Linked DNA regions of Homo sapiens: region 1 is linked to region 2. The links come from fine-mapping of genetic effects on gene expression. A gene starts in region 2. The other region holds a variant in brackets. All regions are shown on one strand. Distances are from middle to middle.

Region 1 (5,376 bases), 510 kb before region 2:
AATTTTTGTATTTTTTTTTTAGTAGAGATGGTGTTTCACCCTGTTGGCCAGGATAGTCTCGATCTCTTGACCTTGGGATCTGCCCACCTCAGCCTCCCAAAGTGCTGGGATAACAGACACATTCTGACAGTATCATTGCAGTACCTGCATCCAGCCCTAGAGCCCGGTATCTTCCAGTGCCTTCTTCAGTTATCTGAGTTGATAAATTCTCTTTATGCTTAAGGTGGTTTGAACTGATTTTCTTCCTCTTTGCCCAGGAGGAAAGCTAATATACCACTTCATAAGCTAGCTGTAAGCATTAAAAGACCAGATGCCAGTGGTTCAGAAGCACTCAGTCACATTAGCTATGATGATTGTTATCACTGTCATGACTCCTCCTCTATGTTTTTGAGTGGATTTTGGGGCCAGTCCCCTGGGAGTTACCCACATAGAGTAGAAGCCTGAAAGTGTGCAGCTGGTATGTCTCAAAGGCCGTGGTGAGTCCTGTGACCTGATTCCAGGACTGCAGAGGAGACATTGCATCTTGGCAGAGCGGTCAGCACCTGTCCCCTTTCTCTCTGCATCTTCCATTTCACCCCACTCCTCAATTCCCATCAGAGGCCTCTCTGGGTGAGGAAGAAAATGCCTCATTTTTACATAGGCCAGCTCCCTCCAGTCTGAAATGGGTGCAGATAAAAACATGCTAGCCTGCGATGGGGAAGCAGGTAGAATGTGGTAGAAAGAGCACTGGGCTAGGAGCCCAGAGGTGAGTCCCAGCCTTGGTTCTGCCTGTGCCTTGGGGCTACTCAGCAGCATCTCTTCCCACTCCTGCCCCCAGAAGCCACATTGCAGCCACACCTGTAGCTTCTTGTGATTCCCCCAGTGCATATGCCTTTCCTGACTTCAGGGCCTCTGTCCAGGGCATTTATATTCTCCCGGCCTAGAATGTTCTTCACTCCCATCCCTACTTAGGTAACCCCCTCTGGTTTCTCAGTCTCAGTCCTGGAAGCACAAGTTAAGAGGAGTGATTCTGAAAACAAATAGTCTTGGGTTTAAATTCCAACTTTACTACCTACTGATTGCATCACTTTGGGCAAGTTACTTAATCTCATTCAACCTCTATTTACTGATCTGTGAAATGGGGATAACAGCGGTATATCCTTCACAAGGCAGAGGGTGACTAAGATAACATAACTAAAGCACTTAGCCCTTTGTGCAGCACATAGTCACGGTTTGATGAATGTCAGTGCTGATTATTAACCTTCCTTTCAGAAAGCCTTTTGGGTGGCTAAGACTGGGTTAGGTGCCTCTCACTTGTATCCCCATGGCTCTTCTCTCAGGTATCGCCTTGTGTTGTAGTTGCTTATTTACTTATTTCCCCTTCTAGACCAAGAGCTCCCTGAGAGCAGCAATTGTGTCTCATTCACTGTTTGTTTTCTTTCCCCCTCCAGAGTTAAGCACAGCAACTAACCCGTAGCAGGCATTCCTCTCTGAATCTGTCTTGTCTTCTTTTTTTTTTTTTTTTTTGAGACCGAGTCTTGCTCTGTCGCCCAGGCTGGAGTGCTGGAATGCAGTGGTGTGATCTCGGCTTACTGCAAGCTCTGCCTCCCGGGTTCACACCATTTTCCTGCCTCAGCCTCCCGAGTAGCTGGGACTACAGGTGCCCGCCACCATGCCCAGCTAATTTTTTGTATTTTTTAGTAGAGACGGGGTTTCACCATGTTAGCCAGGATGGTCTCAATCTCCTGACCTCGTGATCCGCCCGCCTCGGCCTCCCAAAGTGCTGGGATTACAGGCATGAGCCTCCGTGCCTGGAGGCACATGGATTCTTGAGTGTGTGTTGTGGCTCCAGGCATTTCCCAATGCTCAGAAAAACTGAAACTAGGGCTGCCAGCCCAGGGGAAGGAAGGGAGGTCTTGACAGTTGCTAAAAAGTTCATGTCCACCGTGAGTTTGAGCTGGGGTCATGCCCTGGAAGTTCTGTGTACAAAAATGCCCCCACGTGCAGTGAGCTTCCTGCCCTTCCCTTGGACCGGGCTGTGCCATGGGACGGGGCTGCAGAGAATGACCCAGTTATACTCTCCTTCCTGGGCCAATTGAGTGCCAAGTGACACATGTCAAAGGACAGAAATGCCATGACGATAGCCCGTGAATGCTTTTCCCCAAAGCTCATGGAACGAAAACTGAAATAACAAAGATAATTGGCTGCAATTATAAAGTAAACTTCAGCACTTTGGGAGGAGACCTGATTTTCTGATTTGGAAATGGTATCACTTCCCTTGGCCAGGCATGGCTTCCAAAGTGCACCGAGGAAGGCAGCCCTCACTTCTTTCCCCAAACCGTCTTCCTGGGGTGGAGGGTTG[G/C]GGGTAAGCAGGAGAATGAGTGTCAAAGAAAGTGAAAGCTGGCAGACCTGGAGAATTATGGCTGGGAGCCTCTGGTTCAGAGACATTGGCTGAGTCCAGATCCAGGGTTTCCAATGCAAGCTTTTCAGCTCCCTTGGGTCTCATTAGTTATCTCAGGCAGAGCTGCCAGCTTACAAAACAAAATTAAGTTTAATTCACCAAGAAAAAACAAAAACAAAGTTGCCCAGCATTTCTCTAAAGGGCAGAGTGTGAGAGGCTGTTGCAAGCATGCAAGACCCCAGCAATGCCATCTGAGCAGGAGGTGATTTTTTTCTCCAGTCAGCTCTCTATTAACCCTCACTGGCCCTTCTCTCACAGTCTCCTTTCAGTTCTACCCTGGGTGAGTCAAGCCAAACTGAGCCTCATTCTCACATTCAGTCTTGCAAGTGCTCTTTGAAGTAGGGCTACAGTACCAGTTGCCCTCTTTGTCTGACCCCAAATCCTGTGCTCATGCCCATTCCACCAGAGGCTCTTAAATGTTTAGGTCTCAGGACTCCTTTATGCTTTTCAGAAGCATCCAGGACTCCAAGAACCTGTGTTTATGTGGGTTATAGCTATTGATATTGATCATATTACTAACACTGAGAAAATGTTAAAATATGCATTAATTCCATTTAAAAGTAACAATTATATACCCATGACATGTTTATATAAAAAGCACATTTTTAAGACAAACCAAAAGAAATGCAGGTGAGAAGAGTTTCATTGTTTTATATTTTTGCAAATCTTTTTAATATCTAGCTTCCTAGAAGACAGCTCAATTTTCATATCTGCTTCACCATTCACTTTGTTGTGGTATGCTTTTTGGATGAAGGATAAGAAATTTGGCTTCACACAGAAATGTATTTGAAAAGGGAGGAGCCGGGTGCGGTGGCTCACGCCTGTAATCCCAGCACTTTGGGAGGCCGAGGTGGGTGGATCAGCTGAGGTCGAGACCAGCCTGACCAAAATGGAGAAACCCCGTCCCTACTAAAAATACAAAATTTGCCAGACGTGGTTGTGGGCGCCTGTAATCCCAGCTACTTGGGAGGGTGAGGCAGGAGAATCACTTGAAGCTGGGAGGGTGAGGCAGGAGAATCACTTGAAGCTGGGAGGCAGAGGTTGTGGTGAGCTGAGATTGCGCCGTTGCACTCCAGCCTGGGTGACAGAGTGAGACTCTATCTCAAAAAAAAAAAAAAGAATAAAAAGAAAGAAAAAGCGAGGAATACTTTAATAGTCTTTTCAGGTAATTATGGGTGTTCTTCTTTGATTAAGACCAAAGCTCAACAAGTGGCATTTTCTTAAAGGCTAGTTGTAGTGTGGAACTGCACTTGTACCAGTGAACCTTTGGTCCTCTGTTACATAACTCTACCGATCTGTCTTACGCTTTGAATGGAACTTTCCCCATGCACGATCTTGTAATATCATGTGTTGGTCAATGGAAAAATATCGGTTCACTGAGTTATGCAGATCTTCCAAATGCTAACACATTTCATTATACAATATATTTTTTAAATAATGTCCTTTGATATCACCGCTGATCTCATCAGAAAAGTCTTTAAGTGAGGGAAAGTTGTTAAGCTCAATGTGGCAGTGAAAAGTTTTCCAAAATTTTAATTTTTACTTGGAAGCACGAATTTATCATTGGCAACAAATACTGTGAGCTGCTTTTTTTTTTTTTTTTTTTTGAGATGGAGTCTTGCTCTTTCACCCAGGCCAGACTGCAGTGGCGCCATCTCGGCTCACTGCAAGCCCCGCCTCCTGGGTTCACGCCATTCTCCTGCCTCAACCTCCCCAGCAGCTGGGACTACAGGCGCCCGCCACCGCGCCCGGCTAATTTTTTGTATTTTTAGTAGAGACGGGGTTTCACCGTATTAGCCAGGATGGTCTCGATCTCCTGACCTTGTGATCCACCTGCCTCGGCCTCCCAAAGTGCTGGGATTACAGGCATGAGCCACCGTGCCCAGCCTGTGAGTTGCTTTTTTTAAAGTGATGGGCTTACTTTGTTCATTTTCAAGAAATTATCTACTAAATAGCCATGTCTGAATAATGAGTTTGCCAGTCTTTCTTTTAGGTAAAAACAGTGTTCCATGAAAAAATGTAAAAGCCAGCTAGTTCAGCTTGCAACTCAATTACACAGGTACTTTTCTCTAGACAACCAACATGCTGTGTGTGTACATCTCCCATTTTGTCATACGGGACATTAAAGGAATGTGTGCTCAAGAGTTGAATGTTAATACAAACAATAATTCTTGGTACTTCATCAAGGGCATTCCTGGTTTTGGTAAAACCTGCAAGTGCACAGAGGTGAAGAATACAGTGACCACCAGTTTCATTTGGTAGCGATGTCCTGATTCATGCTGAGGTGCCAGCAGTTTTACCCTCCACTAATTTTGTACCATCAGTGCAAATGTCAACACAGGGCAAAAGGAAAATAACATTTTAACCTTATTGTAAATATAGTTTTGGCCTCATAGACCCCTGAAAAAGCCTCAGGGACCCCCGGGGTCTATGGATGACACTTTGAGAACCACTCTGGTCATTACATATTGGTGGGCAATGGATAGAGAGAGATAACTGCTCTAAGTCAGCACGAAGTTCCTAATTTAAAAGGCAAGCTTACAGAATCTTATGGAAAGCAGGACAGAAGCAAATACAGGACATCTCAGCCCTCAAAGTCACCAGAATACTCTCTGTGAAGGTAGGGCCTCACTGCCTTCAGAAAGTACAATTATTGCCATGCAACTGTCCTTTTAAATTCATGCTTACCTCACTATTTTAGAACTGAAACCTAAAAATCTGCTTGCTTCCATTTATGGAAATGTTTACAAACATCAGGTTTCCTGGTTCTGGAAACAAACTCTGCAAAGCCTACATCTTCATAACGGTTAGAGAAGAAATGCAGAATCCAGTGCTGGTGAACAGCTTTCCCCCATATCTACCCCTGGTTAATATCCATGATGTTTAGACATATATTTTTGGTCTAAGGACAATGAGCATGGATTTGTTGTCCTATA
Region 2 (5,376 bases):
GGGATGGAGGATGTAGACTATATTTGGGATATTTATATTTTAACCTTGTATCTCTTTCTTTCTTTTTTGGGTACGGCACCTCTTTTTTCTAGGGCTTCCCTGTCTAGGTGCTTTTACTGAGATGTCTATTATAAGATACAGGTATGGTCATGTGACCTGTGCCTGCCTGACTCATCACAGATCCCCAGCTCCCTGACCAGTGATTTGCCCAGGAATGTGAACTCCCTCTGCCAGGTCAATCTTTCTTCCATGAGATATTTTATGAAAAATAGAAATGCTGGGGGAGATACCTTCCTTTTTCCTCTGGGTTCACTTAGCTGTGATGATGTAAGCCTGGAGTCAACTTTGGCTAAGTCTGCCTGACCACCCCCCACCCCCGCAATGTGAAGAGGACATTAGTCTACTGTAGGAGAAAATTAGGTCAACTGCCGAGAGAGAAACCCTGCCATGGGATGGAAGGGGGCTGTGAGAAACAGAAAGAGAGACGTCCATCTGATATGGTTTGGCTGTGTCCCCACCCAAATCTTGATTTGAATTGTATCTCCTAGAATTCCCATGTGTTGGGAGGGACCCAGGGGGAGGTAATTGAATCCTGGGGGCCGATCTTTCCCGTGCTATTCTAGTGATAGTGAATAAGTATCACGAGATCTGATGGGTTTATCAGGAGTTTCCGCTTTTGCTTCTTCCTCATTTTCTCTTGATGCCGTCAAGTAAGAAGTGCCTTTTGCCTCCCGCCATGATTCTGAGGCCTCCCCAGCCATGTGGAACTGTAAGTAAGTCCAATTAAACTTCTTTTTCTTCCCAGTCTTGGGTATGTCTTTATCAGCAGCGTGAAAACAGACTAGTACACCATTTAATGACATCTTAGAGTCTCTGAGGCCAGCTTCTCCCTTGTGGTGGCCCTGTTAGGTAAGACAGCGCCTACTCTTCTAAGTTAGTCTGAATGCACTTCCTGTCTCTTGCAGTGGAAGGATTCCAGACAGATGTAGGGGCAATGTATTTGTGAATTTATACCCACTGTGGTGGGGGAGCATTTACACATTAAGAAGGCGCCTATAGAAGGCACAGTTATTACATCTTTCTTTGTCACCTGTTGTCTGAGTACCCACCACATGGCACTTGTCACCAGGGATACAGGGGCGACCTGGTCCCTGCACTTATGGAGCTCACAGATGCCATGATGTAACTGCTTCTTTTTTTTTTGAGATGGGAGTCTCACTCTGCTGCCAGACTGGAGTGCAGTGGCACGATCTTGGCTCCCTGCAACCTCCGACTCCCTGGTTCAAGCGATTCTCCTGCCTCAGCCTCCTGAGTAGCTGGGATTACAGGCATGCGCCACCACACCCAGCTGATTTTTGTATTTTTAGTAGAGATGGGGTTTCACCATTTTGTTCAGGAGGGTCTTGATCTCCTGACCTCGTGATCCACCCGCCTCGGCCTCCCAAAGTGCTGGGATTACAGGCGTGAGACACCACGCCCGGCCTGCTTCATGTTTTTGCAAGGCCAGAGTGAGTGAAGAAAGGAATGGAGGACAATGCGGGAAGGAGGGGGAGGACTCTTTCAAAGGAGATTCTTTGAGGAGTTCTTGGGAGGCATAATGAAAATCTTCCCTGCACTGAGTTTGGGCAGGAATGAAGGGACTAACACTCCATTACAAAGCTTTTGGTGAAAGGATGTGGTCCCGGTCTATCCATCCGCCATCATCTTACATTTCCCCAGGCTGTAAGGAAGAGCCACTGATACTTTCCTCCACTAAGAGATGCCTCCGTCTGGAGGATTGTGGGAAGAAAGGGTACCTAGGTGGGTTGGAATTTCACTGGGCACTGTTCTATTGTGATGGCTTCACTGAGATTGTTGGTCTTCTCTAAACTCCAGGAATGTTCAGAGCCTTGGGCCCTCACACCCCTCAGCTGACCAGGCTCCCAGGAGCTTGCCAGTCCCGGGGACGTTCAGGCTATTTGCTTCATGCATGATACCCACACATTCTCTCCAAATCCCTGCTCTCCACATGGGGAGCAGTGATTACATGGAGCTGGTTAAGTGGCTGCATTTCAAAGTTCATTTAGTTTCTTCTCCATTCCAAGAGGCAGGGCTGGGGCCACCAGAATCTTACATCTCTGGCTTGGGTTTCAGCTCCCAGCCACTCTCTTTTACAGAGCCCACAAAGCGTGGACGGCCACCCAGCCTTCCCAGTTTACATGATCATGGGGAGAGCCTGTCAAAAGGTGAGCATGACACAGCAACCCTGCTAGTTGCCCAATCCTCGTCCTCGTGTGCTAGACATCTCTCAAATCTCTCCCCCTACCTTCTTTCTTTCCTCGCTGCTAGTGATTTAGTTTCTTGTTTGGACTAATGCAGCACCCTCCTTACTGTCCCTCTCCTCCTATCATCTATCTTGTCCCCTTCTCATCTGTCTTCCTCCATACCTGAGGAAGTCAGAGAGATCTTTTCTTTCCTTTTCTTGAGACAGGGTCTTGCTCTGTTGCCCAGGCTGGAGTACAGGGCATGATCAGAACTCACTGCAGCCTCAAACTCCTGTGCTCAAGCAGTCCTCCTGCCTTGGCCTCCCGAATAGCTGGGACTACAGGCATGTGCCACCATGACAGGGTCTCCCTATGTTGCCCAGGCTGGTCTCCAACTCCTGGGCTCAAGGGATCCTCCTGCCTTGGCCTCCCAAAGTGCTAGGATTATAGGCATGAGCTACTGTGCCAGGCCATGGTCGGCTATTTAAACTTTTTTTTTTTTTTTGGTTGTTGTTGTTGTTTGTTGTTGTAGAGACAGGGTTTTGCTATATTGCGGTTTTGCTATATTGCCTAGGCTGGTCTTGTCTTGAACCCCTAGGCGAAAATGATCCTCCCACTTTGGCCTCCCAAAGTGTTGGGAAAACAAGCATGAGCCACTGTGCCCAGGCTGGAGAGAGCTTTCTAATGCCACACATCCCAGCACATCACTCTGCTAATGAAGTCCAGGTAGGGCTCACCATTGCCCTCAGGATAAATGTTAGCCTGGCACCATGTTCTTTTCCATGTGCAGTCTCTGGCTGCATCTTCTTTTTCTACCCTACTCTCTAACACATCCACTGCCACACTGAATTAGTTTTCTGAAATGCCATTCCCTTTTTGGCCTCTTGGCCTTTCCACTGGCGACATTCTTTGTCCTGTCACCTCTGTTCCCTATCTCTGCCTGGCTGATTCTTACTACTCTACAGAAATGATTCCAGCTCCTCTGTGAAGCCCTTCCTGATCTCTTGTCAAACGGGAGACCTGATCACTCTGCTACGTGCTTACCAAGTCTTTGTTCATCTTCTTCTTCTTAGGCACTCAGAAAAGACAACATTTTCCAGGCTTCCCTGTGGTTCAGTTGAGGTTCCCTGATAGTGTTCTCACCAGGGTGGGTGGAAGTGAGGCCTGCCGTATCCAGGCCTGCTTATTAAGCTCTCGTGAATCACCCAAACTCTCTTCCCTTGCTGCAGCAACTGCACAGAGCCTGTGCTTAAGATGGCAGGATCGCAAGACAGAGCAACTGGAGCAAGTCCTCATTAAGAAGAGCCGCCCGATGCATTTGGACTGCGATGTGTTACGCCCATGAGATTTCAGGGTTAATTTGTTACCTGGCCGTGGCCTATCCTCTTCCAGCAGATACAGTTAAGTATCCCTTTCTTTGTGCTTTTGGCCTGTATTATAGCTTACATCACACTACTAATATTGTCTTCTCCATGAGACCGTTAGCTAGTCGGTGCCACCCAGTTTTCTTTATCTCTCTAGAGTCTCCTTGTTCCGTGGTACTGACTGTAGTGTTGGCACCTAATAAACATCTTTTGAATAAATGAACTTTCATGCCCTCATGTGACAGTGGAGCAGGGATGAAAAGACACAGCAAGACTAAGATAGATAGATAGGGAGAGAAGAGCCCATCTTGCCAATGGTGAGACAGCCTGCTAGCCTTATGGGGCCAATGGGTACCTTCGGCTTAGGGGCTGCAAACTCCCTGCCATGGGCTCACGAAACATCTGACGAAATGGCCACTCCCCAGTTCCCTCAATCCACATCACACCCAACATTTCCCTTATACCTTCTTCCAACTGCTCTCCTGCCATTTCCAGAAGTTGCTTTCATTTCATTCACTAAACAGTTTACGAACTGAATTAAAATAAATGAGATGCAAATAAATTCCAGGCTTTCTCCCTCATTTTCAAATTACATTTTCAGTCCACTCAACCTGTTATAATCTCATAGTGATTTTCATTTAAGAGAGCTAAATGGATATGTGATTGTTGTTACAGGAACTAACACCAGACAATTAAATGTTGAGGTGTTGATAGATAAAACTGTGTTTTGATTTGCATAAACACGATGCCAGCAAATCTAACCCTGGCAGAAATTCAGTTATAAGACTTGTGTGCCTAACTTGGGCTAATTACCACAAGTACCATTATTAAAGAAAGAGTTTTAATATTTGGAGTTGGGATTATAGCCACTTTATTTTAGGGCCACATTTATCTTTATTTGGAAAACTTAGTCAAAATGCATAACTGATTTATCAGAGAAAAGGCACGATTACTACTTATAATCAACTTCTACAGTGCAGCATATCAAAAATCAATTACACAGCCCTGAAATCCAGTCATTAAGGATTTAACTACTAATCTCATTCCATTTTTGTCTTTAGGAGGCTACTGCAGTTTGCAACTTTGCAGATACCAGCAGAGGAAGAAAAACCTGGGAGACTGCTGCTAACCTAATGTGGAGACTTGACTTAAACTTCAGCCAGACAAAGGCGGAATCTTAATATGGAGGGGCCTGGCTCTGCAGGGAGGTCACCTGGGCTGGCTGGATTTCAATCCAGTTACACAGCAAAAAAGTTACAACCCAAGCTTTGGCGATGCTGAGCCTTCTACTCTCAGGGATTCCAAAGCATTTGATAAACTCTTTCTTTGTTCCATTGTTTACTGACTTCCTAGTGCTTGTCTTGTTCTGCAGTTATTTATTTATTTTTATTTATTAGTTTTTACTTATGATCTACCCCTCTCTCCCATCTCCCCGCAACCTGAAGGTAAGGTGCAGGAAGTTATGGCCTTTGCTTTGTATGCCATTACATTCCCCCTCCCCAGGGAAGGGGTTAGCATGATGGTAGGAACTGTTCCCTCTTGGTGACAGATAAGTGACTGGAGCAGAATCCACTTCTGCTGAGAAGCTCTGGATGACCACGGATAAGCAGGAAGGCATGTGACATATTGGCAAGTGAGTCAGACAGAAAGAGAGACGTGGGATCGAGTCCTGGCATTGCCCTTTCTAGCTATTGTGTCCTTGGACAGGTAATTTAGCTTCCCTGAGTCTGTTTTCTCATCTGAAAAATGAAGATAGTAATAATTATCCT

What was found. PIP is the estimated chance that this variant, and not a neighbour inherited with it, causes the effect.
Region 1: its variant is fine-mapped to the expression of TENM2-AS1 in non-classical monocytes (Schmiedel 2018, PIP 0.95).

What each region holds. Positions count from the first base shown.
Region 1 is chr5:168,737,609-168,742,984 of GRCh38, reverse strand. The region is part of intron 20 of SLIT3 (slit guidance ligand 3); the gene reads left to right. Among named protein-coding and RNA genes, the nearest start is that of MIR218-2, 28 kb to the left of the region's middle. The variant G/C (reference allele first, on the strand shown) is at 2,342.
Region 2 is chr5:168,229,153-168,234,528 of GRCh38, reverse strand. It overlaps TENM2-AS1 (TENM2 antisense RNA 1), which reads left to right and starts at 2,157. Exons shown (of 3, transcript NR_109894.1): 1 at 2,157-2,225; 2 at 3,473-3,643; 3 at 4,669-4,946. The region is part of intron 27 of TENM2 (teneurin transmembrane protein 2); the gene reads right to left.